Homo sapiens: one gene and its partners. The protein of the gene in region 3 purifies or fractionates together with the protein of the main gene of each other region. This does not show direct contact. Each region holds a gene or a part of one and is shown on either strand. Other genes may lie near its edges.

Region 1 (3,279 bases), on a different chromosome or scaffold from region 3:
TTTTTTAGTAAACATAGAGTTGTGTAGCCATCATCACAAAGCAATTTTAAAACATTTCCACCACCTCAAAAAGTTCCCGTGTGCCCAGTCATTCCCACTCCCATCCTAGCTCCAAGCAGCCAATGATTTACTTTCTATCTCTATAATTTTGCCTTTTCTGGACCTGCCATAGAAATAAAAACATATAATATGTGGTCTTTTGGGTTTGGTTTTTCTTTTACTTAGCATTTTTTTGAGATTCATCATGTTGTAGCATGTTCCCTTTTTATTGCCAAGTAATATTCCATAATATGGAAAAATGTTCAATAGCATTAGTAATTAGGAAAATGCAAGTGATATAACTACACACCTAGGATGGCTGCAGTAAAAAACCTGACAATAACAAGTGTTGGTGAAAATGTGGAGAAATTGGAATACACTGTTGGTAGGAATGTAAAATGGTATACCTAAATGGTAAATTTGGAAAACAGGCAATGTCTTAAAAAGTAAAGACATGCTTTTCAGATAACCCAGTAATTCTACTCCTAGGCATGTGCTCAAGAGATATGAAATATATGTCCACACCATGACTTACACATGAACATTTATAGCTCCATTATTTATAATAGTCCTAAACTGGAAACAATTCAAGTATCCATCAGCTGTTGGATGGACAGTGTAGCATATCCATAAAATGGAATATTTGTCTCAATAAAAAAGAAAGAAGGCCCAATACACAGAAGTTCCTTGAGGGCAAGATTTGCTTTGTTCACTGATGATTAGTGCCTGGCATATTGCAGGTGTTCATTAAGTATGTGTTCAATGAACAACAGAATGAACAATGTAAGTCACTTTAATTATTATCTTAAAAAATGGCTTTATTTACAGTCATGGAAAATGCTCAAGAAAATACCTAAAGTAAGAATACAAAAATAATCTATATTAACAAGTTTGCTTCTTGTACCTGCTACTAAGTCAGTCATTAAACTCACTGCAGGTGTTGGAACCACCATATATTGTTAGAACTTCCATAAGAATCAAAGGAGATTATGGCATAATCTAAGAAGAAAATGATCTGGCTAATGTCCACTGTAAACCTTAGCTACAGGCTTTTATTTTTACAAAGACAAAAGGTTTTCCCTTAAGTTGATTCAAAGCCTTGAAGTAGGCCACTTAATAGCAGACTGCTGACTGTCACAGGGTGTATATGGATGCAGAATGTTCATCAGAAACTTGAGGTGGTTACCACCACCTTATAAACATTTAATAATTAAGGTCCATAAATTCAGCTCTCCTAAGTGGCCAGGAGTAGGTCTTACTTGTAAAAGAGAAGAAACATCTTCAAACAAGGTGATGCCTAGGTAGCTGACCGGAATCCTCAAGATTCACTTCTTTTCTTTTCTTTTAAAAATACATTTTCGGCACGCAACTTTTCTGTCTCCTAAGTAATTTTAAAAAAACAAAAAGAAAAAAAATAAGGCTCTAATTCTTACAGGAAGTGGTTTTTTTTTGCATTTATTAGGTGTATATTTCAAATTAAGACTGGAATTTTCAATGTGCAAACTAAACGTTAAACAAGAATCTGCTGTCTATGAAATGCCACTGATTGAATTAGGCTCAGAATAGCAACGACCAACTTTTTTTTTTTTTTTAATTCAGGAAGCTCCCTGAAGTAAGCAGTTAACTGATTCAATAATTAAGTTTTAATTTGGTTTCAATAAAATAATCATTTTTAAACCAGACAGAATTTATTCAGAATAATTTTTAGGTTTACCTCAGCAAGCCTGACATTTTCCTTCTTTAGTCGCACTACGTACTGAATCTTCTGATGCAAATTTTGGTGACCTACCAACTTTCCATTTTCCTCAGCAAGACACTCCACCTGCTTCCTTAACATTTCCATCTCCTGCAGGTAATCAATCCAAGGAGGGAAAAATGAGAAGTAGGTCTTAATTTTCTTTTAAAGTCACATTATTTCTTGCCTTCCAGGAGCACAGGAAGTCAGAGAGTCCAGAATCCCAGCTTTCAAGGCCTCACAACTCTTCATACAATAAAGCAACTCTGAACTAAGGACACCCAATCACAAAGTGAGTTTTACGCTAATTAGTTCTATTCATTTGAGTGTTCTAAGTATCATGAAAACACCAACACACTAGCACACCTGGGATGTTCTCTCTCTTTCTTCATACATTTCTTCCAGCTTTGATCTCAGTTGTTCTTTTTCCTGGAATGCTTTAGACTCCAAAGTTTGGGTTCGTTCGACTTCATCAGTCATTCTAAGGCATTCCATCTCTTTGTTGTAAAGGGCACTTTGGACTTCTTCTAGGCTGTAGGAATAGGTTATCACTTTATAGTATTTGAAAGAAACATAATCATAAAACAGTGCTCAAGTTAGACATGTGTACTGCAAGGCCAGAATTTTGATTTGAAAGTATTACTAATCTTTAGCCCTCCTCTGCTGATGGCAAAAGAAGACAGTAAGTGCTACATACCAGATATGCTTTTTTTGGTTTTGTTTTACCCAAGACTTTCATTTTGGAAAACTCCTCAAAACATTTTCTAAACAAAAAAAATTTAGAATAAAATTGTTTAGATTCAGCCCACTTGGGGCAAATGTAATTTAAGTATTATTATAATCTGCATGGTTTATTCAGTATCCCCTATCTTGATCATTTCTGATTTCAAAAACTGGTCCTCAGACAGTGGGACACCAGTCATTTCTTTCAATTCATTTCTTCAGTTGTTTAGAATTTATACACTTCATGTACATTTCACTGACTTTATAAAATGATCTGAATCCTGTAAGTTTCCCAAAACAAATGCCTACTTCACCCCCCACCCCCCTTTAGGGACAGGGTCTCACTCTGCTGCCCAGGCTAGAGTACGCTGGCACCATCATAGCTCACTGCAGCCTCCAACTCCTAGGCTCAAGCAATCTTCCTGCTCCAGCCTTTGGAGTATCTAGGACTACCAGCATGCACCACTGTGCTTGGCTAATGTTTTAAAAATTATCCGTAGAGATGGAGTCTTGCTATGTTGCCCAGGCTGGTCTCAAACTCATGGCCTCAAGCAATCCTCTTCTCCTTGGTCTCCCAAAATCCTGGGACTACAGGTGTGAACCACTGTGCCAGGCCTGCTTTTTATTTTATAATGCTCATGAAATGTAATGTTGACTGTTGAAATGATGTATTATTACACCATTCAAGGCCAGCTAATTTCTAGCTGTTGATTACTGAAATGATATAATACACAAAATTTAATACACCACTCAAAGCCAGCTAATTTCTAGCGGTTGATTGC
Region 2 (4,297 bases), on a different chromosome or scaffold from region 3:
AAAAATACCACTTTCTTGTTTTGTAGTCAACTGAGTCTTTTGGAGGGAGATATTCAGAGATTATGTCAATACCCTGTGTCTCATAGAGGCTCCACCTGCCAGCTTTAACATCCTTTGATGACTCCTGTCTAAATTAACTGCCACTCTGATGGTTGCCAAATGGTGTTTTTTCTATTTATGTAATTCCTTCTAGATTCACAAGTAGGCATTTTACACTTTAAAAGAGAACTCCCATCTCCATATTTTTTGTTCATTTCTATCAGTATGGACTCATGGATTCCTATTTTATGTAACAGGTTAAAACCAATTACCATCATCATTTATTTTTATGCTCAAATTGTCCCAGATTTCAGCCACTTCAACCTGGGAACTCCATCATTTTGACATATCGACATCATTTGTTGAATATTTCCTTACTCTCTGGCACAAAAAGATGGTCCAGGCTCATCTTCTGCATTCCCTGACCTAATCCTTTTAGAGAGCATGGTATTTAGAAACCAATGTCCAGGTACTTGGTATGATCACTGCTACTAGAACATCATAGTTTTTTTTTGCCGGGGGGGGGGGGGGGGGGGTAAGGTCACAGATCAACAGGATAAGAATTTTTCTTAGTACAGAACAAAATGAAAAGTCTCCCATGTCTACCTCTTTCTACACAGACACGGCAACCATCCGATTTCTCAATCTTTTCCCCACCTTTCCCCCCTTCTGTTCCACAAAACCGCCATTGTCATCATGGCCCGTTCTCAATGAGCTGTTGGGTACACCTCCCAGACGGGGTGGTGGCCAGGCAGAGGGGCTCCTCACTTCCCAGTAGGGGCGGCTGGGCAGAGGGCTCCTCACTTCCCAGTAGGGGCGGCCGGGCAGAGGCGCCCCTCACCTCCCGGACGGGGCGGCTGGCCGGGCTGGGGGCTGACCCCCCCACCTCCCTCCTGGACGGGGCGACTGGCTGGGCAGAGGAGCTCCTCACTTCCCAGTAGGGGCGGCCGGGCAGAGGTGCCCCTCACCTCCCGGACGGGGCGGCTGGCCGGGCGGGGGGCTGACCCCCCCACCTCCCTCCCGGACGGGGCGGCTGGCCTGGCGGGGGCTGACCCCCACCTCCCTCCCGGACGGGGTGGCTGCTGGGCGGAGACGCTCCTCACTTCCCAGACAGGGTGACTGCCGGGACGGAGGGGCTCCTCACTTCTCAGATGGGGCGGCTTCCGGGCGGAGGGGCTCCTCACTTCTCAGACGGGCGGTTGCCAGGCGGAGGGTCTCCTCACTTCTCAGACGGGGCGGCCGGGCAGAGACGCTCCTCACCTCCCAGACGGGGTCGCGGCCGGGTGGAGGTGCTCCTCACATCCCAGACGGGGCGGCAGGGCAGAGGCTCTCCCCACATCTCAGACGATGGGCGGCCGGGCAGAGACGCTCCTCACTTCCTAGATGGGATGGCGACCGGGAAGAGGCGCTCGTCACTTCCTAGATGGGATGGCGGCCGGGCAGAGACGCTCCTCACTTTCCAGACTGGGCAGCCAGGCAGAGGGGCTCCTCACGTCCCAGACGACGGGCGGCCAGGCAGAGACGCTCCTCACTTCCCAGACGGGGTGGCGGCCAGGCAGAGGCTGCAATCTCGGCACTTTGGGAGGCCAAGGCAGGCAGCTGGGAGGTGGAGGTTGTAGCGAGCCGAGATCACACCACTGCACTCCAGCCTGGGCACCATTGAGCACTGAGTGAACCAGACTCCGTCTGCAATCCCAGCACCCCGGGAGGCCAAGGCTGGCGGATCACTCGCGGTTAGGAGCTGGAGACCAGCCCGGCCAACACAGCGAAACCCCGTCTCCACCAAAAAAATACGAAAACCAGTCAGGCGTGGCGTCGCGCGCCTGCAATCGCAGGCACTCGGCAGGCTGAGGCAGGAGAATCAGGCAGGGAGGTTGCAGTGAGCCGAGATGGCAGCAGTACAGTCCAGCTTCGGCTGGGCATCAGAGGGAGACCGTGGAAAGAGAGGGAGAGGGAGACCGTGGGGAGAGGGAGAGGGAGAGGGAGAGCAATCCTATTTTTTTAACTAAATATGAGAACATCATAGTTTTTAGGCTGCCTTAGGAGACAGCTAGAAAATATGTGTATGTATACATATACACATACTATCTCTATCTATTTGTTCATATATATTGTTTAAAAAAAGTCATGATTCATAATAACACCAATTCCAATCCAATACCTTAGAGTTTTTTCTTGCCTTCCCCCTTTCCATGGTTATAAATCCCTCATCCAACAGTGAGAAGCATAACTCTTATTATCCTTAATATATTCATTCATTTGCTCAATCTATTTACTTATTTGCTCAACATAACCAATCTCCCAATCACACCAGCCCCTGTGTGTTTGCTGCCCTATTTATCACAGCTGTCTTCTTGTTGGAATGCTGATACCTCCATGCCTGGTAAAGAATGGAGGGGAAGGGAAAGGAAAGAAATAAGGATGGGGAGAGAAAAATAGGAAAGGTGGGGAAAGGAGTGAGGGGAAGATGGGAAAAGGCAAGGGAAGGGAAAATGGGAAAAGAAAGGAAAGAAAGGGAAGCAGACACTCACCTTTAAAACACCTTCCACAGCCATCTTCCCTTCATGACCTAGTAAAATACTATATGGATAAAGCCACTGGATTGCATGTTTGATTGGCATCATAGGAAAGGAATCCTATGTAGGAGCAAAAATACATAGGAATGAGCAAAATTCAAAATAATCACAGAAAACATCTGAAATGTACATATGACATTAAAATTGACTTATAAAAGTAACCAATAGGTGTCTGGTATTTTCTGTAAGTCTACAAAAGCAAATATTCATTATTTTCTCTTCTCATTCCTTGCCCTTTCTCTGGGTAAGCTTACCCATTCCCATCTTTCATTTATCTTCTATGTATTGATGGCTCCCACACTTCTATGTCTGGTCTTGACTTCTTTCTTGAGCTCTAAACCTGAACCCTCAATTGTTCATTACATGTGACTATATGAATATCCCATAGACCCCCATTTGAAACAGAATACATGTCTCTACCTTATTCATCCCAAAGTACCTGATCCCTTTTTATTCCTAAGTTAATCTCATCCACATTCACTTAGCTTCACAGTTATAACTACAAAATTAGAAAGTATTCATTATCCTCAAATCCTTCCTCACATTATCTGCACTGTCAATTCTGTTCACCCCACTTTAAAAGTCTGTTGACAAGAAAGATTAGTGAAATTTCAATATGAACTATCTATTAGATGATACTATGGATTACTGTTAACATGATATGAAGTGTGATAATGTTGTTCTGGTTATGTAGAAGAATGTCCTAATTCTTAGAAGTTGCATACTGATATGGTTTGGCTGTGTCCCCACCCAAATCTCATCTTGAATTGTAGCTCCCACAATCCCCACGTGTCATGGGAGGGACCCAGTGGGAGACAACTGAATCATGGAGGCAGTTAACCTCCATGCTGTTCTCATGATAGTGAGTTCTCATGAGATCTGATGGCTTTATAAAGGGCTTTTCCCCTCCTTCACTCTGCACTTTTCTCTCCTGCCACCATGTGAAGGACGTGTTTGCTTCCTCTTCCACCACGATTGTAAGTTTCCTGAGGCCTCCATAGCCTTGCAGAACTGTGAGTCAATTAAACCTCTTTTCTTTATAAATTACCCAGTCTCAGGTATTTCTTCATAGCAGCGGGAGAACGAACTGATACACACACTGAAGTATTTAAGAGTACTGACTGCAATTTACTTCCAAATGGTTCAGGAAAAAAAAAAAGAAAAAAGCACATGCAAACAAATGTGGCAATATATTAATAATGGGTGATTGTAGGTGAGGGGATTATGAATGTTTTACTGTTTTTCAACTTTTTTTTACATTTGAGAATTTTCAAAGTAAAATGTTCTAAGCAAAAACAAAAGATTTCATAAGAATTTTCAAAATAAAATGTTCTAAGCAAAAACAAAAAGATTTGATAAAAGTATAAGATTTGATAAACAGGAGGAGAAATTCTGTTCTGGATGTATAGAACAATGTCAACAATACCTAGGCTCCCTGACTCACATGAAACATACATATATACATACATACATACATACATACATACATACATACATACATACAAGTTTAAAAATAAGTCTCTTGCCTAAGATAGTATTCCCACTATCTTGGATGGTGCCCTCCTCCACAGGGTCTCACTGAGTGTTACAAAAGCTTCCTAGTCATTCCCTCACTTCCAACAAAGGTGTCTTCCTCCAACATAAGTCTGGTCACATTCATAGCCCACCAACTTAATATTGTC
Region 3 (4,156 bases):
ACTTTCTTTAGGCTTCAACTTTTGTTTATATAATCAGTTTTTCTTTTATACTGTTACAAAATGCCTTTCAAGCTTCTCTTATATTTTCAAAAGCTATGAAACCCATCAAAATTATAAGGACTTAAATTTATGTAATTTTTTTATTTTTGGATACTTAAATTTTCTATTAATTTGCTATAAGTCATTGAAATGTTATAAATAATTTTCTCATATCTACTCTTTGTTCATTTTATTTCAGCCTTTAGAAATAAGAGGGCCATATGACGTGGCAAATCTGTATCCTTTTCTGAGTAAAAAGTTGTTGACATTGTCTTTCAGGAAATTTTGAATTTGAAGTCGTATTATAGTTGAACATGTATTTTTCTCAACCTTTTACTGTAAGTTTACCAATTAATAACTTCAAAAATAAATTATATAACATTATAGAGAGCTTTATGCTTCTGTTTTTTAATTAATCATGAGATAGAAAAGAGGGAATGAGGGACTTCATATGATAAAAGCTTAGAGTTAAATGAGTCTTTTCTCAGATGCATGTTCCAGTTGGACTAAGAACTGCTGTTGAATTAATTAGCCTCTCAAGATGACCAGGTTAGCTGGCACTTTCTGTTATGTTTGTGTTAGTCTCGTGTCCTTGGGTGACTCTGGGTTGAAATCTTTAATGCTCCCCCAAGAGGCTTGCTGTTTGGGCTCTCTGAAAGTGACGCCAAGGCTGCGGTGTCCACCAACTGCCGAGCAGCGCTTCTCCATGGAGGTAAGCAAGTTCTTCCAGTACAAACTGAATGGTCATGTTAAAAGCAAGTCATTTTTACAGCCATACCTATTTTTATTGCCCTACCCTACAGAGTTCCTTTGGGATCATCTTTTCTCAACCTGTTCTAAACACAGTCATCAGTGTTTTCTCACCCTCACTTCAGGCTTTACTTTCTAAAGTTTGTAGAATGAATATAGTTTTCATTACAGAAATAAGTATTGAATAGTTCTTCCAGCTATACATGTGTGCTCCTGCCGACATTTTGATAGGCTTCTAATCTCCCTTCCTTCTTCTCCCTCACCAGAAGGCCATGCTTTCCCTGTTGAAAATCTCTGTTTTAGAGAACGGATATGTTAAAAATATGTGTTAAACTATTTATTAGGAAAACAAAACCAGCAAATACATTTTTAAAAATCCAACTAACAAAACATAGACTGTAACTTTTACATTTATTATAACTCAGAATGTTTCTTTTCTCATGTTTGCTTACATGGTCAAGTTGTGTCCAGACTGTACCTTTTTTATTTTTTTTTCTTTTTCTAAATAGAGACAGAGTCTCACTATGTTGCCCAGGCTGGTCTTGAACTCCTGGGCTCAAGCAATCCTCCTACCTCAGCCTCCCAAAGTGCTAGGATTACAGACATGAGCCACCATGCCCGGCCAGACTGTACATTTTTTACTCACATTTTGTATATGTACCTTTTCACTGACTGAGTTTCCTGCTCATCAGATGTTAAAAATTGAAAGTATGCTGAAACTTTGGAAAATGAAAGTGAAATTTTATTAAAACAATTTAAGCTTTTGATCACTGTTTTGTCTTCGTTATCTTTATAATTCTTAGGACTAGTTGTAGTGGTTAAGAAGCAATTTCATTGATATCACCCAAGTGAATTTTAAACTTCAAAGTAGATTGCTACATATAGACTGAGTTATTTGTCATATGAATAGCTAGGTTATTGAGGGCTTGTGTGTTGGGCTTTATTGATCTGATTTCCACTTGAGAGAACTGCTTATGTATTGGCTTGCCGTAAATTAGATGATTTTGCTTTTAGTTTCAACATTTTTAGTTTGAGATTTTTGTATTATGTAGCCTAGAACTCATCACATAAGCTTTGGGAGTGGTCAAATTAATGGAGATTTTGAATAATGATTTTCTTGAAATTAGGGAACAGTTGGTTCACACTTTGATAGTTCTGTCATTATTTTGATCTATTTTAAATAAACATTCATCAGGATTTTGAGTAACAGTTGGGGTTCCAAAATGGACTAAACAAGAAACAGAAACTAAAATATAAATACATACATAATTTTATATATAGGAAAATAGGAAGTCCTGCATTTGACTTTAAGAACTCAGCTATTCAGCATATAACACATAATATGTAAAGTATTTTTTTTTAGAATTTCTTTTTGTGGGTACATAGTATGTGTATATATTTATGGGGTACTGAGATATTTTGATATAGGCATGCAATGCATAATAATTACATCATGGAAAATGGGGTGTCCATCCCCTCAAGCATATGTCTTGTGTTATAAACAATCCAATTATGCTTTTTTAGTTATTTTTAAATATACAATTAAATTGTATTGACTATGGTCACCCTCTTGTGCTATCATATACTAGACCTTGTTCATTCTATTTTTTTTGTACCCATTAACCATCTTCACCTCCCTCTCAGCCCCCCACTACCCTTCCCAGCCTCTGGTAACCATCCTTCTACTTTCTGTCTCCAGGAGTTCAGTTGCTTTGATTTTTAGATCCCACAAACAAGTGAGAACATGTGATGTTTGTCTTTCTGTGTCTAAAATCAGGCTTTTATAGAAGCTAAACTTAAAGAAGACTTGTGAACTTTGGGTGGCATTACCATTCACCCCAGTGTACCCAGGACAGTTCTAGTTTATGCCTGCTGTTTCTGTGACCTTATTAGCACTTCTATTCCCTGAAGAGAGTCCTAAACTAGATGATAAAATATGGTTACCCTGGTTTTCGTTGCCATTGGGATCAGTATGAGACGGTAGTATGATGTGTTCTTAAGATTGCTAATTCAGCCTAGGTAATATTAGAAGAAATAAAGGATTCTGAGACAAGGAAATTCAAAGCCTCGTTATTATACTCTCATTGATGAAATCTCAGCCGGCATCTGTATCATTCTGAGTGCCACATTTAAGAAGGACAGCAGTGCACTGAAACACTATTGGAAAATGTCTACTCAGTCCTTAAAGGGTCTGGAAGCCTCATGATGAGAGGAATCACGAGGGTGGTGCAGACATGGATACCTGGCAAGCAGAAGAGTTGGGACACATGGTAGTTAGCTTTCAACTTGGAAGGCTTGCCACAGGAAATCAGAATTAGGTTCTTTGGGGGTCCAGAAATCTAGAAACCAATGAATAGCAATTCTGAGGAGGTTGTGGGGAAAGGACAGAGGAAAGAGGCCCAAGGTCAGGGTCTTTGGCCTGTGATTGATAAAGTTCATGCCCTCAATCAGCCCCTGGACCAAAATGAACCTGTTGGGGACACCTGCCTTAGCCCCTTGTGAACAAAATTATTCACTCGTAGATAATCCTTTAGATTTTCCTTGGCAAGATGATTAAAGGAAATACTATATGTGAAAACATTTTATAAACTAAAGCATACACAAATGTAACGTCTTGCTGTTACCAAGAAATGCATTTATTTTTAAAAGACACTAAAGAAATTAATGCATTTTGTTAAAAAGTGCTGATTTTCATAATGTTTATATTTCAGTTGATTTTTAGACTATGGGTACAGAATCAGTGACATAAATTAATAGCTATAAGTGTGACGTTTTTCATTTGGTGAAATGGAAATCATTGACAGTTTTTATTTTGAGGTTCTTATTATGTTGGCATTTTAATGACCTTGAGAGCAGTTTTATCCCTTTTACAAATAAAAGTGTTTTAAAATAATTGGCAGAGTAGATTTACTAAGTTAATCTTGATAAATGGGAAAATAATGCTTAACACTTTATGGTTGACTTTACGTTTATTACTTGAAATAAGGAATAATTCATAGCTAAATTTCTGTTCAAGTTCTTTTGATTCTGCCACCTTTGTAGCTAATGGGTATCTCTCTCTTTCTCCATAATCCCTTTCCATTTCTAAGGACAGAGTTTGGGTCTGTTTTCATGACACTATGGCCTTTCATAAGTTACCCTTCCAAACTCTATTTTCTCCTAATTTTTTTGTATTCCTACTTCACATCAGCCATATTGTCCCCTAAACTATTTTACCTAGGTTCTTCTTATCTTTCTCTCCATGCCTTTGTAAAGGAATATTTCTCTTTTTCTTACTCCGTTTACCCTATTCTGAGTAGTGTCACCTTTATATAATACCTCATTGCTTTAACCAGGCAGTTAATTCTTGTGGATGCCTCCATTCCTA
Region 4 (4,297 bases), on a different chromosome or scaffold from region 3:
TCCTGTTACCTTTAAAGCTTCCACCTATAAAGATGACTAAATGAATTTGATAAAAGAAGCTCAGAAATTTCAAAGATCCAGTATAACACCAGGCGGCTTCCGTCCTTCACTGTCAAGACACTCTAAAAAATGTAAGACAGCCCTAATATTACTAACACTAGAAGCGCAGGTCAGTAATTATTGTTGTACCCAAGACTAGCTCGCTAAGAGAAGTAAACTTATAATTATCCCAGCTACATTTTCACTACTAAGGTTTCCATCCAGCAGAATGCATTCACCACAGCACAAGCACATTTATTACCCTTTTGACAGCAGGTGGTCTGGACACAGTGACAGGCTATAGAACATATCTTAGTGTTTCATTAGGGCCTTATTGTGACCATGGGAGCTTGGCACTATTTAATTCTGGCTAAACTCCAGATCAATAACTTGTTAACGAAAGAAACTGTCCCCCCAAGGGGCTACCAGAATAAAAAGTTACCAACCTCAGCTTGTTTGCACCACACGCTGATGTTCTTCCGCTGGGCTTTTGTGAAGTGGTCCCATGCCTTCTGCTTGGAGGCGGAATGGTACACAGCCACTATCTGCTCAACTGCAGCATCAAATCAGCAGTTGGATCAGGCCAGGGTATCATCCAGGGATGGAAAAAGAGAGGAGAAAAGAAATGAAATAAAAGAGAAGCATCAGGCTTGTTGTATCTTGTTGTTATGACACTATACTAAGCTGTGGTTGTGCTTGGAAAAGGCTACATGTGTTGGGGTACTTTGATTTTAAAGGAGACGCAAAGGAAAAGACATCAACATACAGAAAGACAAAAGGGAACACCAGAGGTTTGGGGTAAAATGGTAACAACTAGAGTTTTAATACAGGCATTGTGAATTCATGGAGGCAGGAGAGGAAGAGTCATAGCAAATGCACTTTTATTTAGTACTTGTCTTTAGTTTAGTACTAGTGACTCCACACAGCATGGAAGAAAATGGCAAACTGTACCAGAAACTCTCTACCCCTGGCTCCTTTCATAGCCCTCTGACACACACTTGGATGCCTTGCTTCAACAGAATTCATGCTTTTACTATTCTGAGGTATGTTTAACAAGAAGCATCAAATCAAAACCTAAGATGGATTGAATCTTTTTTAAGTCTACCAAGATAGACTCGTTGACTGGAAAAATATAAGTTTTAGGGAAGGATGCTGTGTAAGTGCGGTCCTAGAGAGTATTTTTCAAGGTCTCTTAAAATGTCAAACAGGGAAATGTGTGCAGATGTTCTGGGGCTTTATCCTAATCACAGTTCAAGAGAGGGGAAGCTTAGACATGACTCCTTTGGGAAAAGAAAAGCAGGACAAGAGCCCCTGTCTGGTTGGGTGTTCACAGTAAGAAAATCCAGAGGTATTATTTTTTTTTTCTTTACATCCCTGTTTGCACCCTGTCTTCTAATGACTTAAGGATTTATAGTCCCATGATGCGTGCTGCTTTCTCTTTTTAAAAATTTATCCTAAAGTCCTGAAGACATGTGCTTTTGCCTCCTGGATTTTATGCCCATATATACTTTCAAAATACAAGTGGCAAATGGAACAACTCCCCCTTAATCACAATTATGTATGAGTCAAGTACAGGGAAGTCAAGTTTGGAAAGAGTGGACCATAATTGTTTAAAAGCAAAATCATAAAATTATACCCTTATTCTTAAGGTGAATATACTTTCTTACTGAAAAAATAAGAGTGTATAATTTTATAATGTGGTAAACAAAAAATTACTTGATAATTTATCTGATCTGGCTCATTTCAGAGACCTTAGATAGGTTTGGAGCGGAATTTCTTTTTAAAAATGGCCATTTTGGTAGCTTCTCACCTTGTCCCAGTGTCTATGACATCCAGCAAAGGTAGCAGAAGAAAGTAAACTAAATAAAAAATGTAGAAGTAGCAAATTTGATTTTTATCCAATCACCTTGGGAAATATAATTACATTGATCATTGAAATGGAGTTTCTTGAAGGCATATTACATGATGATAATTATACAAATCTGAAGAAAAGCAGCTTTAAAATGCTGATGCTACATCGTAACTTTAGCAATAAAATACCCAGCCCTCTATTGAGGCCCAGGGCTGTAGAAGTATAGGATGTGGCCTAAGGATCAGTGTTTCTAAGGAGTTGAAGTAGATATACCAGAGAAAATGAAGCTAGCAGGTGCGCACATGTCTCCTGTGAAATTGGAGCTTGGGCATTTGACAATATAAGGAGAGCACAAGGCAGTGAAAAAGGGAGCCTTGAGCCTTAACACAGGATGGCTCTGGAGGCCTGAGCTCCCATAGAGAGCAAGTGACTAAGTGAAGTGACTTATTCTCATTCCAGCAGAACTCTAAGTTCCACTCACATTGAATGAGAATTCCAGAAAGGGCCTGCTTGAACTTCTCCTTTGCTTCTTCCATATCTTTCTCATGGGCAGCTTTCTCGTTCACCAGGCGGCGGACATGGCTGTTGGCCGACTGGATCATGGAGTAGAAGTTATTGGCGCTACGACGGTTGACCTCTCCTCGCTCTATCCAGGTAAGCAAGGTCTGTACAGCTTCTGAGAATTTGGAATCATCTGAAAAAAATATATTTTTATAACCAACAAAGGTAACCAAATTTTGATCTATTTTCCCAACATGCTGGCAAAGAGGGCATCATGATTTTTGGCAGTGATGGGTAAATGAATTGCTGAGGATGAGGAGCCACACATACACACATGTGCACACACAGGCAGTAGGCAGGCAGACAAACAGGAAGAATGGAAGGATCAATGTAGTCAGACTGGTTGTGGTCTGTGATGAATTTTCAGAAAGAGAAATGTTTCCTTGAAAAAAGTTTTCTGTACTGATATATAGGTTTCATGTATTGCAAATTTCTTACCCTCTCTGATTGTGTGTGTGTGTGTGTGTGAGAGAGAGAGAGAGAGAGAGAGAAGGGGGAAAGGGGGCAGAGGGGAGACAGAGAGACAGAAAAAACCATGAATTAGTGAGGGAACTTCAGAATTCTACAGTCCTGTGTTTTAATGAGGAAAAGCAAACTTGAATCCTGAGTTTAACTTGAATTTAACAGTAACTTTACCTTGGATCCATGGAATTACAGTGTTGGGAGGAGCCTCAGGGAAGAGTTAATTAAGTAGGTCATTCTTTAGATACAAACATGCACATCTTCGACCTTTTATAGTATCACTCCTGTGTTCAATCCACAGCCCCAGGCCTTCCACTCAGTCCCACTCACAATCTATTTTGATGCAATTTATTTTATTTCTATATTTCTCCACATCCTTTTTTCTCTTGCATGAAGAACCTCCATGTAGATTTCTGCAGCTAGTTAGGAGTTATTCTGTGATTAGTTAAGATAGTAGCACAGCTCTTCCAAAGCTTCTGGTTCAGCTCCCCAAGATAGCCACTTATGCCTTCTGTTCTTAAAGGCTCCAGAGAGGGAGAGTACATTTGGATCTATTGAAGCCCAATTCAAGGGCTTCACATCCTTCTCTGGCTAGAAACCCTTATGTTAAATGGAAATTTCCTTCACTGCAGTTTGAACTTCTTGCCTCTTGCCCCTTTTTCAGTGCAGACATATAACAAGCAGTCAGCCTCCCCTTTATAGCAGCTTTTCACTTTATTACTTAGATATAGACTTTATGTTGATGCTCAGTTTTTGCTTCTCTTGAAGGTCACACACCCATTAAATTCATTTTTTTAAACTTAAACTGATTTGTTTGGTGTTGTGTGACTAGGCAAGTCTTGGACCTGGCGTCTTACCAATGCTTTCAGCCTTTCCAGTTTTTCAAAATGTACCATTATTTCTGTGCCTCTATTCTGGACTCTAGGTTTTCTGCTTTTCCCTTAAAGAAAGTCAAAACCAATTTCTTACATGTGTGAATCCCTTAGGCTATGTGGTACAAACATGTCTGGTGAAGGAGACCTATTTGGAAAGTAGGGTTAGCAGTATCTTGATGAGTTGAGAACACAAGAAGCAGGGAAAATTCATACCATTAGAGCTGGATTGGTGTTACCAATAAGATCAATGGGACACCAGCATTCATCCAATAAAATCATCTATACTCAGAAAATGAGAAAGACTGGATTTGAGCTACTAAGACAGGAGACCAGGCAGAGCAATTAATGTTAAATTAACAAAATGGCTGAGAGTCAAACAAGGGGAACAAGAATCAAAACTAATGGGAAAGCAGTCTGATTAAGCAATGTCTACACGTTTCCACAGTCACTGTTTTAAATAAACTGGCCTTTTAAAGTGATTTAAAAGTCTTTATGTTTTAGTTGGTGG
Region 5 (4,297 bases), on a different chromosome or scaffold from region 3:
AAGGCATTTCTCTACTAAGACTGCTATTAATCTGGACTGTATGTGGCTACCTCAAAGGTAGGGGTCAGAAAACTTCTCTCTATAAAGAGCCATACAGTAAATATTTAAGGCATTTTTGTTCATATAGAGTCTCTGTCACATATTCTTCTTCTTATTTTAAACAACCTTTAAAAATGTAAAGAACATTCTTAGCTTGGGGAACCTCCTAAAGCAGGCCACTACTGACCCCTGCTCTAAGGCTATAACAAGACTATAGTGTCCTATATTCTAGTGTGGTAGCCTGGCCCACCACAGCTACCATGTAAGTAGCTCTGAGTCCCAGAATCTGGCTGTGGTAAAATTAGTGTTATCAAGTCTTTTGTGTAGCCCGCTTCCTAGCATATAAAGTTTTTCTATGATTAGGAAAAGGAAATTATAAAAAAAAAAAGTCTTCAATTCTGACCAATACAGGACAAACATAGACTATAGTTGGTGTTTATTAGTACCAACAATATTACAAATAGTAGCATCTGTCGTTTTTTGAATACCTATTACCTGCTAGATACTTGGCATATTTTAGCTCATTTCAAACCCTCAAGGAAGGACTTTTCCTCCATTTTATTGATGGGGCATCTGAGATCCAGATGCTAAACAGCTTGCTAGGCTCACCCAGTTAGCATGTAGCAGAGCTGATCAAGAGAAGTAAGGGGGTCAGGTTTGGAGGACAAAGAAAAATCTGGCCTGGAGAATACAGAATAATCATCAACAAACCAGCCAGTTGCAGGGAGCTGATAAAGTCTATATGAAACAGAACACTAATTCACCAACCTGGGCGGTAACTATTTTATCTCCACTGGTAGCACTTGCCAAATCAAGAGAAGGCTGAGAATCCTTAACCGTACTTTCTGAAGCCATGCTTGCGGTTAGGAGAGAATCAGACGTAATATTCTCTTTGGGAACTGCAATGATAATAATAACAACAATAATAACAACCCTTTTTGTTTGATTCTTGTAACAACCCTGTGAGGAAAGTGGCTTGATTACTCTCATTTCCTATACAGGGAAACCATGGTTCAAACAAGTTATTTAATTTCCTCAAGACTATACAGCTCATACAAAAAAAAGATGCAGGACTTGAATTCAGACTTTAGGTCTCCAAATCCCAAGTTTTTTTCACCATGCCACTCTCTCTCAGATGGCAACAGAATTGAAAGTTTGAAGTCTGCTGAAGTGTTCAATTACAGTAAAGTAATTTTCACCAATGTAAACATTTTTACATTTTGTCTATTACTAAAGAAATAATTTTAATAACTTGGTTGCCAGTGAGTTTTTTAATAAAGTGAAATAAAGGCAGAAAGGTAAACAGTTTCAACTCCAAAATTTCACCACAAAGAGTTATTTCTCTCTTTTTTTTTTTTTTTGAGACAAGATTTCACTCTGATCACCCAGGCTGGAGTGCAATGGCGCGACCTTGGCTCACTGCAGTCTCTGCCTCCCAGGCCCAAGCAACTCTCCTGCCTCAGCCTCCCAAGTAGCTGGGACTACAGGCGCGTGCCACCATGGCCAGCTAACTTTTGTATTTTTTTTTGTTGTTGTTGCTCAGATGGGGTTTTGCCATGTTGCCCAGGCTGGTCTTGAACTGAGCTCAAGCGATCCGCCCGCCTTGGCCTCCCAAAGTGCTGGGATTACAGGCGTGAGCCACTGTGCCCAACCAACAGAGTGATTTCTCAATTAATACTTGCCATCTATATCAGGAGTTTTCAGAGTCTCAAATTCCAATTCGCTTTTCCTTTTTCTTGGTGGTGGAGCAGGTCGAGAAGGAGGTGGGGGTCTAGGAGGTGGGAAATTAGTTGGAGGAGGTGGGCGTGCTGGAACAGGCTTCTTTGTACTAGCCACTATATCAGGCTCTGGAGTAAGGTGTCTTGGGGGTTTGGCAGGGGCCACTTCTTCCACAGCGGCAAAATCTTTAGTAGATAAGGAGTCTGAGGACACAGGCTCTAAAACATCACCACCTCCTTTGACTTCCACTGCTTCCTTGTTCAATACTTCTGTTTCAGTTTCAAGCACATTAAGCTGCTCAGTTGAACTTGTTTGAGTTAACTTCGTGGTTTCATCTACTGGTTTCTCACAGGTTTCATCAGAAGGAAAGCATTTTTTTAATTCTAATTCAGTCTCTTCAAATGTATTCTGACTCTCTGCCTTTTGGGATTCTTCCGGTAGTACTTGATCTATGGCTAACAGTCCGGGTATATTGCTCAGATCTGTTCTAGCCACAATAGGACTGGCAGTAGCTTGATCAGAGAGTTCTTTTCCTTTGGAATCCAAAGAGTCATCTTCAAGCTGTAGTACTTTCTGACTCTCCTCAATAATACTTTCAATAATCTGATGAAAGGGTTAAAAGTAGTTTTTAAAAATGAAGCTATTTATAAGAACACAGTAACAGCTAATCATTTACATAGTACTTAGTATGTGCCAGGCAATGTTCTTAACACTTTACATATTTTAATCTTTACAACAACCTTATGAGATTCTACTCCTACTGTCACCATTTTACAAATTAGGGAACTAATCAAATGATTTGTCCAAGGTCACAAAGCTAGTAAGTGATGAAGCAGGTATAAACCCAGGGAGTTTGATTCCAGCATCTATACTCTTAACCCTCATAATAGCAAATTTGTGTTAATACTTAGGTACAAAAGATCAAATAATCCTGTAAAATCAAGTTCAATCCTAAACTTACATTAAGACTCAATATCCTGATTCATTTACATATTTATGCCAAACTTGTTGTAATACCAGCCTAATGGTTTGAGCCTACTTAACCAAACCACGATAATCCAAATCCCCAGGAGAAGAATTCAAGTTGTTTAGCTCTGAACTCAAGCTTATGACCCAAAAACCAGCAGATGCAGGGAGATTAACATTCTTAAACAGACTACACCTAAACTCCACTATGTGGACTGATGGCAGGACCATGAAAAGAGTTCAAATACCCAGTCCACCTTGTCTTTTCCCTTCCTTTCTTTTTCTTTTTTGAAATGGAGTCTCACTCTGTCACCCAGGCTGGAGTGCAGTGGCACGATCTTGGCTCACTGCAACCTCTGCCTCCCAGGTTCAAGCAATTCTCCTGCCTCAGCCTCCCTAAAAGCTGAGATTACAGGTGCTCCACGCCGGGATAATTTTTGTATTTTTAGTAGAGACGAGGTTTCACCATGTTGGCCAGGCTGGCCTTTAACTCCCGACCTCATGTGATCCACCTGCCTCAGCCTCCCAAAGTGCTGGGATTACAGGCATGAGCCACTGCGCCTGGCCCCCTTTCTTATATGTAGCTTAAAATATAAACAGGCTTTCTATTATCTTCTGCCAACATTTAGAATATATTTTCTCCCCAGTCTTGTCATTACTAATATTAAATCTCCCAGATCACTTATCCTGCCACCATGTCCAACCATGAACAACTTCTGCTTTCTCAATTCCCTGGCTTCAGAAAGTTAACAGAATGCATCATAGAACCATCCTAATCTGGTTTACTACAATTTCATGCTAACTTGAACTGGGTATTACTGCTGCTCAGTAATATTCATCCCTGATTTCTTAGCATGTTCTATATGTTAGTTTTTCTCAAACTTCAAATTGTTAACCTTAGAAATTACCTTGCTTTCACCAAAACTAACCAGAGTCCAACCAATTTGTCAATTAGGTGGTTACTGAGCACTGAGAACCTCAATGATAACAGTGATAACAGAAGTCATATTACAATGGATTTGAGATTGAATAAGAGGTGAAGATACAGAGACATTAGCACGGTCTGAGTTTTCAAAAAGCTTAGCTATAAATGCAAAAAGACTTCGATAAAGTGACCCAGCACTTTTATAACCTGAAGGGAAGGAACTACTGGAAAAGAAGATAACAGAGCAATGTTCTGGAAAAGAAAGGAAAGAAGGCCTACTGTGTATTAGACCTAGTATACACATTCTCATTTAATTGTCATACAGGCCTTTGGGTTAGGTAGCTGGATTACCTCCCTCCTAGAAAAGCAGGACTCTGAGGTAAAGGCTTTAAGAATTTTGCCAGTCCCACAATTAGTAAGCTACAAAGCCAAAACTGAAATCCAGGTCTTACTTAAAAATCCAGTGATCTTTGTATTATACCACACTACTTTGGACAGAAAACAAGAATACTAAATCTTCAGTGATGGATGACATGAAAAAAAGGTAAGAAATAACAATAAATATGTAGGTAAAGGAAGTGAAAGATGATACAAAGGAATGGATTCAGGCTTTTTAGCCTCTAATATTTACGTGGAGTAGGAAACAAG
Region 6 (4,297 bases), on a different chromosome or scaffold from region 3:
TCTCCATGTTGGTCAGGCTGCTCTTGAACTCCTGACCTCAGCTGATCCGCCCACCTAGGCCTCCAAAAGTGCCAGGATTACAGGTGTGAGCCACTGCGCCCAGCCAAAAAAAATTTTTTTTTTTGCATTACACTTGCCATACCATACCAATGTATGGAGTCTTAATTAGCAAAATTAACTTAGTTTATCATAAGCCAATACTGCCAACTATGTTAAGTTTCCAAACTATAAATGTCCTCTCAAAGCACAGCTAAAAAGATTTCCAACATTATCTTTACATATAACTCAGAGTCATGAATTTTATCTTGACTAGGCTGACATAGCTGACATAAGTAAAATAGAAAAGTATTTTCCCCCAGAACTCAAGTACTTGTACTAAGGCAATTTTGTCCAATTCCCTGAAAGGAAAAAGTCCTGGCAAAGATTAGAGAGTCCCCAAGAGAAGTGTGAAAGACTGACCTGTGGAAGGTCAGGAACCTCTGTTCCCTACTGTGGCACTTTCCCAGCCCATGTAAATATCACTGCCTCACCCAAAGTCACCTTCCATAAATAGTAACATTACCTGGCTTCTGTAGCAGCAAGGGCCAAATCAAATCTCATTTTATCTCCCACTTTACTCAAATAACTGAAGTATCTAAATGAAACGAGAAAATACTTCACTTTTAAAAAAAGAGATTCTAATGAAATAAAGCTCTTAAAAAATTTAATCTGTGCTACAAAGTCTGAGAAAAGGTTTGCATATTGACTGATTTACACAAATTTATGCCACTCATTACATTTAATAGACACGTTCATCAAGATGGTCTAAGTTATATTTAATATTATCAGTAAATTCACAAATAACCACAAAGCAATTCAAGCAACAAGTATTTACTAAACATGAAATTTACTAAATATGTCAGGATGGAGGTTACGGGGCTCAGGCCATGAAAGCACTTATAATTTACCAGGCAAGGCAAGAATTGTTAAACAAGAATAAAAATATTAAGTTGGACAAAACCTGAAGAGATGACAGGTTTTAATTTCACCACACACTGACTCACCATATAAATACTATATGGCTAAATAAATTTTGAGCTGAACTGAATAAAACTATTAAGCATTATTTAAGAAGTAAAACCTTAATCCTAGTTCAATGAAAATCAACATCCCATTAAAAGACACATTGGTGTAAAATGGAAGACCAACGTAAGTGTCCAAAAAATTTCACATGTGTAAAATGCTGGGTCACATTACTGTCAGATTAATAAAAAATCTATGGCAAGTTTGCAAAGCTAGCCAGCCAGTTCTAGAGGTCAAGCTACAAGATCCAAATCTGGCAGGATCCTGACTATAGTTTGGCACCACCTGGTGGCAGCTGCTATCTGCTTTGGCTTAACTATTGCTGGAATGATTCTAATAGACCACCTTTAGAAGGAAGTGATTTTCAGCAGCTTGAGACAAATAGCTTTAAACAAAGCATTTCAGACAAAATCGGGAGAGTTCAAGATGGTATGGTCATAGACCAAATAAAGCATTTCATAGGTTGTTTCTACAAAATCTTTACCTATGTGCAAGCTCCAGTTCTTTCACAGCATTAAGTACTTCCTTCAGATTACTTTTTTCATCTTTCAGGACAGAGGTAGCTAATCTTTGCAGGACCAAGGCCACATTAAACATAAGAACTGTATCACTGGGTGCCACATGTCTAGCCTGTGAATAAAAAATAAATATTTCATATGTTCAAATGACATGAAAAGGATCTTAGACAGCAGAGTATTATTAAGTAGTAGGTATGTGAACACGCATCACGAAGAATTAAAAAATACAATGTAGCACAGAAATGGATGGGAATAACATCTCTCCTTTTTACCTTCAGCAAAGTCTGTTTGCATTCCTGTAACTTGCCACACTTGAAGAGGGCCCGGGCCAAATAGAGTACAACTTCAGTGTTTTGGTGCTTATAGAACTTTCGGAGGCAGTTTTCATACTACAGTAAAAGAAAAAAGTTAATTAAAACACAACAAAGAATAAATGACATTTTCATTTTGTAGCAAAATGGCATTGCAATTTTAAAGCTCTGTAAAAAGGTGTTTTACCCTTTGAATGGTTAATTTCAGAGAATAATTTGGGGAATGATTTTTGACATTCATCAGGATACATTTTCACAACATAAAAAATCTGACCATTAGAAAAACTAGATGCTTGAAATGGTTTCTTTCCATTTGAAATTTGGACCAACATTGAAAGAAAGGGTAAACAGACTGGAAAGCCTTTTTCATACTTTTAGCAATACTATCTAGAATCAGCTTATTGACCACTGATGAGAAGTCATACACCGTTGTCCTTTGCGTTTTACCATCTACACCTTTCTTAACAATGGGCAGAACCTACTGGCAATGAGCATGAGGAGTCTTACAGTTCTGGTTGTTAACTTCTTGGTAAAACCAATACAATACTAGTGTTAATTGTGACATGAACATAGCACTTTTTGACCATGGAATACCTCTTGTCATAGGTAAGACCTTTTTCATGAAAAATGGTTAAGACCATTTTTTCCTGAATATCCCTAGTAGTTAATTTGCATTTATAAAAGACAACATTATCATTCAGCAGATCAGGAAGGCCAGCCTCACAAAACACAACCTCTGAAGCTCCATATGCAATCTAGGTTCTGTGAGTTTCTGTGATTATTGACTTTCCAGTACTCTGAATATTGGTAATAACCCACCCATTTTAGAAAAAGGTAAACCACTTCTCAGGAGCCTGGACTGCTCTTTTTGTCTACTTTTTGTAAGCTTTTCCTTTCTGACCATAATATATCCCACAGAGCCGAAGATCCTTTTTACTTTTTAATTTTATGGATGCTGAGTATGACTTTTATTTCGAGCTCAAGCACTCAACAAATGTAAGCATAAAAAAATTCTACAGTCATTAAATCTTATCGCTGTTTTGTTTTCTTTTTTCTTTTTTTTCCCGAGACAGAGTCTGGCTTTGTCGCCCAGGCTAGAGTGCAGTGGCAGGATCTTGGCTTACTGCAACCTCTGCCTCCCAGGTTCAAGCAATTCTCCTGTTTCAGCTTCCTGAGTAAGCTGGGATTACAGGCACGTGCTACCATGCCCAGCTAATTTTTGTATTTTTAGTAGAGACAGGGTTTCACCATGTTGGCCAGGCTGGTCTCGAACTCCTGACCTCGTGATCCATCCGCCTCAGCCGCCTCAGCCTCCCAAAGTGCTGGGATTACAGGAGTAAGCCACCATGCCTGGCCTGTTTTCTTTTAAATAAGTCATTTAACCTTTCTAAAACTCACAGTTCAGTTTCAGAAACTGAATACACAAATAAATATTCAATCCTACTACTTACTGGGTATTACTAATATGCTAGGCATGCTAGTGCCAAGTAGTTTTCATACGGGATCCTCACAAAATTCTATGAAGTTAAGGTACAATTATCTCCATTTTATAGATAGGAAAACTGGCTCAGAAAGGATGTCCTTTGCCTGAGGCATGTAATTAGTGGTGGAACCAGGACTCACATCTCTGTCTGGATACCAAAGCCTGGCCTTAGCATTATATAATTATAAATCTCTAAATAGACACAGTATCACAAGAGATAGCATGCAGCTCCATGACAGGGCCAGAATGGCTAAGAAAACATCTGCTTAACAATGAACAAGATATAAAAATATCTTGAAAGAGAAGCTATTACCATCTGAACGGCGCTGATGTACTGCTTTTGCTCCACATAGATGTGTGCTAAGTTCAGCCACACATCACTAATATCTGCTGTTGCTTCTCTTACTTGGGCAAATACATCACGAGCTTCACGAAAATATCCTTTGTGGGCCAAAACAGCTCCTAAAGATATAAAAAGGTTCACACTTAACAATTTTCTAATTGGAGTCAGAAAAACAACTAAAAATTCTATTTTAAAACAACTACATTGATCACATTTTAAGAAAAATTCTGATTTACAAACATTCCTCTGAAAGTATTCATTTGAAACAAATTGTTATGGGTACTCAAGTCTTATAATCACCTATGCCATTGGCAGCATACAGATTCTTTGCATCATTTCTGAGTACTTGTTTGTAGATGGCCAGAGCACGATCTTGATGACGCTTTTCCTATAGAAACAAGTGCTCTTAAAAAAGATTCAAACGAGAATGTAGAGTATCAGTTTTGTTTAAAAGGACAAAAAGAGATTACCTTTTCTCGATCTCGGGTGGGCTGATGTAAAGTTTGGAGCCACACGTTGCCAAGGGCTAGCATAGAATAGGTATCACTCTGTGTGGATGGCTGTTTTAATATCCTCTCAA
Region 7 (4,297 bases), on a different chromosome or scaffold from region 3:
AAAAAAAAACCTGCTCAGAGAATATAGCATGAAGTGAGAGCCCAGAGTGGCTAAGCTCATATTTCAATGCCAGGAATGTTGGGGAAAGGAGAGTGTAGGAGGGAGGTTGGGTCTAGAAGAGATGAGGGGGCAAAGGAATGATATGGGCAGGCGTGCCTTAGAGAAATCCCTTCACAGCTCTACAGAGGAGACCACAGAGAGGCCCAGAGACAGTCTGTCCCTCCTCAATGACCACATTTCCTCTCTTCCAGGAGCTTCCATTACCACCCTGAGACCCCAGGGCCAGATGGATTTAAACTGCTTCCCCTTCCCCGGGAAGCCCAGACCCCAGAGAGACAAGCCTGGGCCCGGATCAGGAAAAACCATTCAGCTTTCAGACCAGGCTGCAGGAGCCCCCAAGAGTCCACAGACGCATGCTCTCTGCAGGTGCCATGCAACACAGGTGGGGGGGCATGGGGTCAAGAAAGACCAGACTACCTGTCATCGCTCGACTTCAGCAAGCGATGGGGTCACAGGGTTAAAATACCAAGGAGCGCGTGTTAGGGGTAAACCGAGATGGCAAACATGCGAGCACAGAACCATGCTGTTCTGCGGAGGGGCAGTCATGCAACACGAGACAGAGCTTCAGGCTGCAGGCTGGGTGCTCGGTCTTCTCACGGGTGGCCCAGGGCCCTCTGAGCATGCGGTGCCCAGCGGGCCTGGCTCTTGAGGAAGCTCCACTGTACCTCAAACTGGGGCATATCCGGGGTGGAGCAGGCCCCTCGATCCGGGCTGTCCTCAATGCCCCCAGACTCATCATCCTGGCTGGGGGCCCCCTTGTTGAGATCCCGGGAGAACAGCAGGCCCTCAGTGTCCGAGTCGCTTTTGTCCCGGTCGAGCTCAGGCAGGCTGCGGGAGAAGTCTTCGAAGGCGCTGCCATGGTAGTCACCAATGACCGTGAAGTCCACCTCAGCCTCCAGGCTAGACGTAGAGCTGACCGTGATGCTGGAGCACTTGCGCTCAATGGCCAGGTGGTTGTCCTTCAGGAACACCGTGTCCCTCTCCTGGTCCTGGTCCTCATCGCCTGTGTCACTCTCTGGGGCCCGGGGACGTGGTGGTTTGACTTTCTCCTCGGAGCCCTCCCTCAGCCCTGCTCTCTATGGCCAGATAAAATCAAAAGAATGGGGATGTGGGGTGGGGAGAGAGAGAGAAAGAGAAATCAAGATGGTGAATGTCAGGAGAAATCTCGGGGCTGTGTCGACATCCTGAATGGAAGAGCAGGCCAGGAAATGAAAAACACCCCAGGAAAGGTTCCTTGAAATCATAACAAGCATAAAAAAAACAAAAACGACTCAAGAGTGGAGATGCCCCTTTCTGAGGGTCTCACACTGATGGCAAAAGCAAGTACAAAGCAAACGTCCTGCCAGTGACTCCTGGACAGGAGGCTCCATCCAAGGGTATTGGATCTGGGAGCTTATTGGAAGCAGCATTGCACGAAAGGCAGGGATGGAAGCCCGGACCCCAGGCCCATCCGTGCAGGTGGGCGTTGAGAAACAGAAACTAAGGAGGGAGATCCAGGGATTCAGGGAGACCCAGGAAGGGAAGGCAGAGAGGTTGGAGCCAAGAACTTTGAGGAACAAAAGAGGAAGCCAACATGTTTGTCAATTCCACTGAGTCTCCGGGGGAGGGGTCAGCATCGACTAGAGAGAAGAGCAATTCAGGGTCAGGCCTTTTGGGCACGAGCTTCTTGGGAGCTGAGTGCTACGCCAGCTCCACCCTGGGCTCCATGAGTGGACCACAGGCAAGTCAGGGAGTAGAGGCTCTGGTCCCATCAGTGTAATTGACAACAGCGGGCCAAGGCAGTGCCTCGGGGAACCAGCAACTCTTGTCCGACATACATACCTCTCAACTGGCCTGTCAGGGATTAAACACCACACACACATTTTTGGCTGGTTCATAACATTCTTTTTAAAGACCAACCTAATACCCATGAAAGATTTGTAAAGAACTTGGCTTCTGGTTCTAGGGATTCAGTGGGCTTAGACATTCACTTGCTAAGCGAGCCTCCATTTAGCCAGTTTCTGGAAGGTTGAGAGGTGTGAGGGAGACATTCCAGACAAGCCAGAGTTGAGCAGCACGAGAGGTGCTGCCACAGCAGGTGGGAACCTAAGGCGGCGATGCATCCTGGCCGGGTGAAGGTGACTGGGTCATCAGGGCACAGAGGGGCTGCAGAGACCTGAGGGCCCGAGGGGCTGGCAAATCTCAGGCGCCCCCCCTTCCCAGGGGTGTTGGCTGCTAAGTTGGTGGAGCGCTTCTCTTCCCTGACCGCATCTCCGGATTTGTTCTGGATTAGAGAAGACAGTTAGTCTTAAGGAGGCAGAAAGAAACTTGGCACTGGGACTGAGAGGGAACCAGAAGTGAAGGATGGAAACCTCTGGACTGTCAACTTTCCCAAGGCGGGAGAACCAGGGATGGGAAAGGATGAAGAAAGATCGCTGGACAAGCCAAGCAAGGTAGGCAGGAACCCAGCGGGTATGAGCGGCAAGGCAAAGCAGGTGTGTCATTTGCTGGTGGTGGCGCCACCTTCTCCATGGGGGTTGTGTGACCCTCTGGGCACCAGGTCACACCAAAAGCTGAGGGTCTTTGTGGCCAAGCTAACATGGGCCAAGCAGAGAAGCCCATCATTCAGCCTGAGCTACACCCAGGCCCGTTTAGGGAAAAAACTCACAGGGATGGATAAGCAGCCTCTGATTGCAGAAATGACGAGGGGCCACTGAAACATGCTTCTAAAAACTACAGAGCATGCGGCCAGCCCCCATGGGCGGGGAGCAGCGGTGGGGGCGGGGGCTCACGCGGCCAGTTACCCCAGTTCCAGTAGCTTCTGCCAGCGTGGTTTCACAGCCTGAATTGGGGGACACGGGCTCTAGTTCCGTGTGTGCTTCCTGGTAGGATGCAGAAGTGTCCTCCCTGAAGTGTCTGGTAGCCAGAGGTATCACTGTGGAATGTGTGGCTTTGGGGCTGGCAAAGTCCCCTGGGGGCTGGAGTTGGGCGAAGCCCAGGTCTGAGAGCGTACTCCGCTGCTGCTCTGCTTGTCCCACGGGTGCCTCTGAAGATACGTCATTTGGAAGGGACCTTGCTTCACCCTCACTCATTCGGCGAGTTTCAGCTCCGTGGGTCTCAAATATCCGAATTTTGTTGGCCACTGAGGTCTTGCTAATATCTTCTAGGGAGCCCTCTTGGTCCCCAGCCTGGAAAGAGGTCATCTCCCTTCGCTTCCCTGAAGGGAACCCAAACCCCAGAGGTATGCGCCCCTCAGCTTCTTCAGGGACTACTCTGGGCTTTCTGCTGGTGATGGGAGGAGGCCTGCGCTCACCTCCTGTGGCAGGGGACACCACAAACCCTACTTGGTCCTTGGGCTCTGGGCTGGCTTTCGAAAGATGGACATGTCTAAGAAAGGGCTCCCTGAGCTCCGAAGGCTCCCCTGACCCATGGGAGGTTGGGCTTGGAGAAGCTTCCTCCAGAGCTGCCAGGTCCTCAGAATGACCAGGGGAGGCTGGCAGGGGAATGATCACCTCCATGTGAAGAAATGCTGAAGCCTCGCGGTCCTTCAGCTCAGCCCCTCCTTTCTGGGTGGGAACCACTCCCCTCTCTTTGGGTGGGAAGTTGCCTCTGTCTGGTTTGACTGGCTTCCTGACATTCAGAGGGATGGCCCGAGGAAGGGCGCAGGCCTGGGGGTCGGGATGCACGCCCTGTCCTCTGTGAGGAGGGTGCTTCTTCAGTTCCTCTGTGGGACTTTCCTCAGCCTTTCCCAGCAAATCTCCACTCACGGGGGTCCCTTCCTCTCGGGCTGCGCTGGCTGTCAGGTGGGGAAACTCTCCTTCCACTCCCCACTGGGCATCTTCCCAGCCTTCAGCAAACGTCTGTCCTGCGGGAGATCCCTTCAGGTCACCAGGTCCTCCATGGTTCTTGGGGGTCCCTGCCCCTTCCTTTGGGGAAGTCATGTGGGCTTCGTCCTTGCTCCTGCTGGAAGCAGCAGCAGAAACCCTCAGGTCTAAGGAATTCAGCGTCGGCCTGGGCTCACCTCCGGGAGGGGCATCCAGGCGCCCTTTTCTCTCCTCCAGGGGTGGAGGGAGGACTTGGTCTTCTGAGTCTTTTTCTTCATAATTTAAATAGAAGCTCCTCTCTGCAAAGGAAGTATCAGTTTCATTGCTCAACTCAGCTCTGGCTTCTGCGTGGGCTGGATCCAATAGAAACGACTGGAGTCCTCCCTTGTCGGAGGCTGGAGAGAGGACGTCCACCTCTGCTGGCCTGGTCCCTG

The links.
Region 1: the proteins of RPP30 (region 3) and KIF15 fractionate together in Homo sapiens (co-fractionation; one large-scale study listed by BioGRID). This does not show direct contact.
Region 2: the proteins of RPP30 (region 3) and VWA8 purify together in Homo sapiens (affinity purification with mass spectrometry; one large-scale study listed by BioGRID and IntAct). This does not show direct contact.
Region 4: the proteins of RPP30 (region 3) and ENOX2 purify together in Homo sapiens (affinity purification with mass spectrometry; one large-scale study listed by BioGRID and IntAct). This does not show direct contact.
Region 5: the proteins of RPP30 (region 3) and WDR44 purify together in Homo sapiens (affinity purification with mass spectrometry; one large-scale study listed by BioGRID and IntAct). This does not show direct contact.
Region 6: the proteins of RPP30 (region 3) and CTR9 purify together in Homo sapiens (co-immunoprecipitation; one large-scale study listed by IntAct). This does not show direct contact.
Region 7: the proteins of RPP30 (region 3) and EPB41L1 fractionate together in Homo sapiens (co-fractionation; one large-scale study listed by BioGRID). This does not show direct contact.

Annotation. Positions count from the first base shown.
Region 1 is NC_000003.12:44,850,814-44,854,092, reverse strand, and holds the end of KIF15 (kinesin-like protein KIF15), read right to left. Parts: intron 2,307-3,279; coding exon 2,141-2,306; intron 1,886-2,140; coding exon 1,754-1,885; intron 1,421-1,753; coding exon 1,358-1,420; 3' UTR 837-1,357; downstream 1-836. UniProt on the Homo sapiens protein: Plus-end directed kinesin-like motor enzyme involved in mitotic spindle assembly.
Region 2 is NC_000013.11:41,880,817-41,885,113, forward strand, and holds part of VWA8 (von Willebrand factor A domain-containing protein 8 isoform a precursor), read right to left. Parts: intron 2,676-4,297; coding exon 2,571-2,675; intron 1-2,570. UniProt on the Homo sapiens protein: Exhibits ATPase activity in vitro.
Region 3 is NC_000010.11:90,895,642-90,899,797, forward strand, and holds part of RPP30 (ribonuclease P protein subunit p30), read left to right. Parts: intron 1-238; coding exon 239-276; intron 277-671; coding exon 672-751; intron 752-4,156. UniProt on the Homo sapiens protein: Component of ribonuclease P, a ribonucleoprotein complex that generates mature tRNA molecules by cleaving their 5'-ends. Also a component of the MRP ribonuclease complex, which cleaves pre-rRNA sequences.
Region 4 is NC_000023.11:130,665,158-130,669,454, forward strand, and holds part of ENOX2 (ecto-NOX disulfide-thiol exchanger 2), read right to left. Parts: intron 2,586-4,297; coding exon 2,373-2,585; intron 593-2,372; coding exon 486-592; intron 1-485. UniProt on the Homo sapiens protein: May be involved in cell growth. Probably acts as a terminal oxidase of plasma electron transport from cytosolic NAD(P)H via hydroquinones to acceptors at the cell surface.
Region 5 is NC_000023.11:118,390,696-118,394,992, reverse strand, and holds part of WDR44 (WD repeat-containing protein 44), read right to left. Parts: intron 2,362-4,297; coding exon 1,722-2,361; intron 939-1,721; coding exon 808-938; intron 1-807. UniProt on the Homo sapiens protein: Downstream effector for Rab11 which regulates Rab11 intracellular membrane trafficking functions such as endocytic recycling, intracellular ciliogenesis and protein export.
Region 6 is NC_000011.10:10,767,882-10,772,178, reverse strand, and holds part of CTR9 (RNA polymerase-associated protein CTR9 homolog), read right to left. Parts: coding exon 4,188-4,297; intron 4,106-4,187; coding exon 4,018-4,105; intron 3,837-4,017; coding exon 3,688-3,836; intron 1,970-3,687; coding exon 1,853-1,969; intron 1,693-1,852; coding exon 1,547-1,692; intron 635-1,546; coding exon 563-634; intron 1-562. UniProt on the Homo sapiens protein: Component of the PAF1 complex (PAF1C) which has multiple functions during transcription by RNA polymerase II and is implicated in regulation of development and maintenance of embryonic stem cell pluripotency.
Region 7 is NC_000020.11:36,206,327-36,210,623, reverse strand, and holds part of EPB41L1 (band 4.1-like protein 1), read right to left. Parts: coding exon of another isoform or gene 2,844-4,297; intron 2,324-2,843; coding exon of another isoform or gene 2,216-2,323; intron 1,137-2,215; coding exon 726-1,136; intron 1-725. UniProt on the Homo sapiens protein: May function to confer stability and plasticity to neuronal membrane via multiple interactions, including the spectrin-actin-based cytoskeleton, integral membrane channels and membrane-associated guanylate kinases.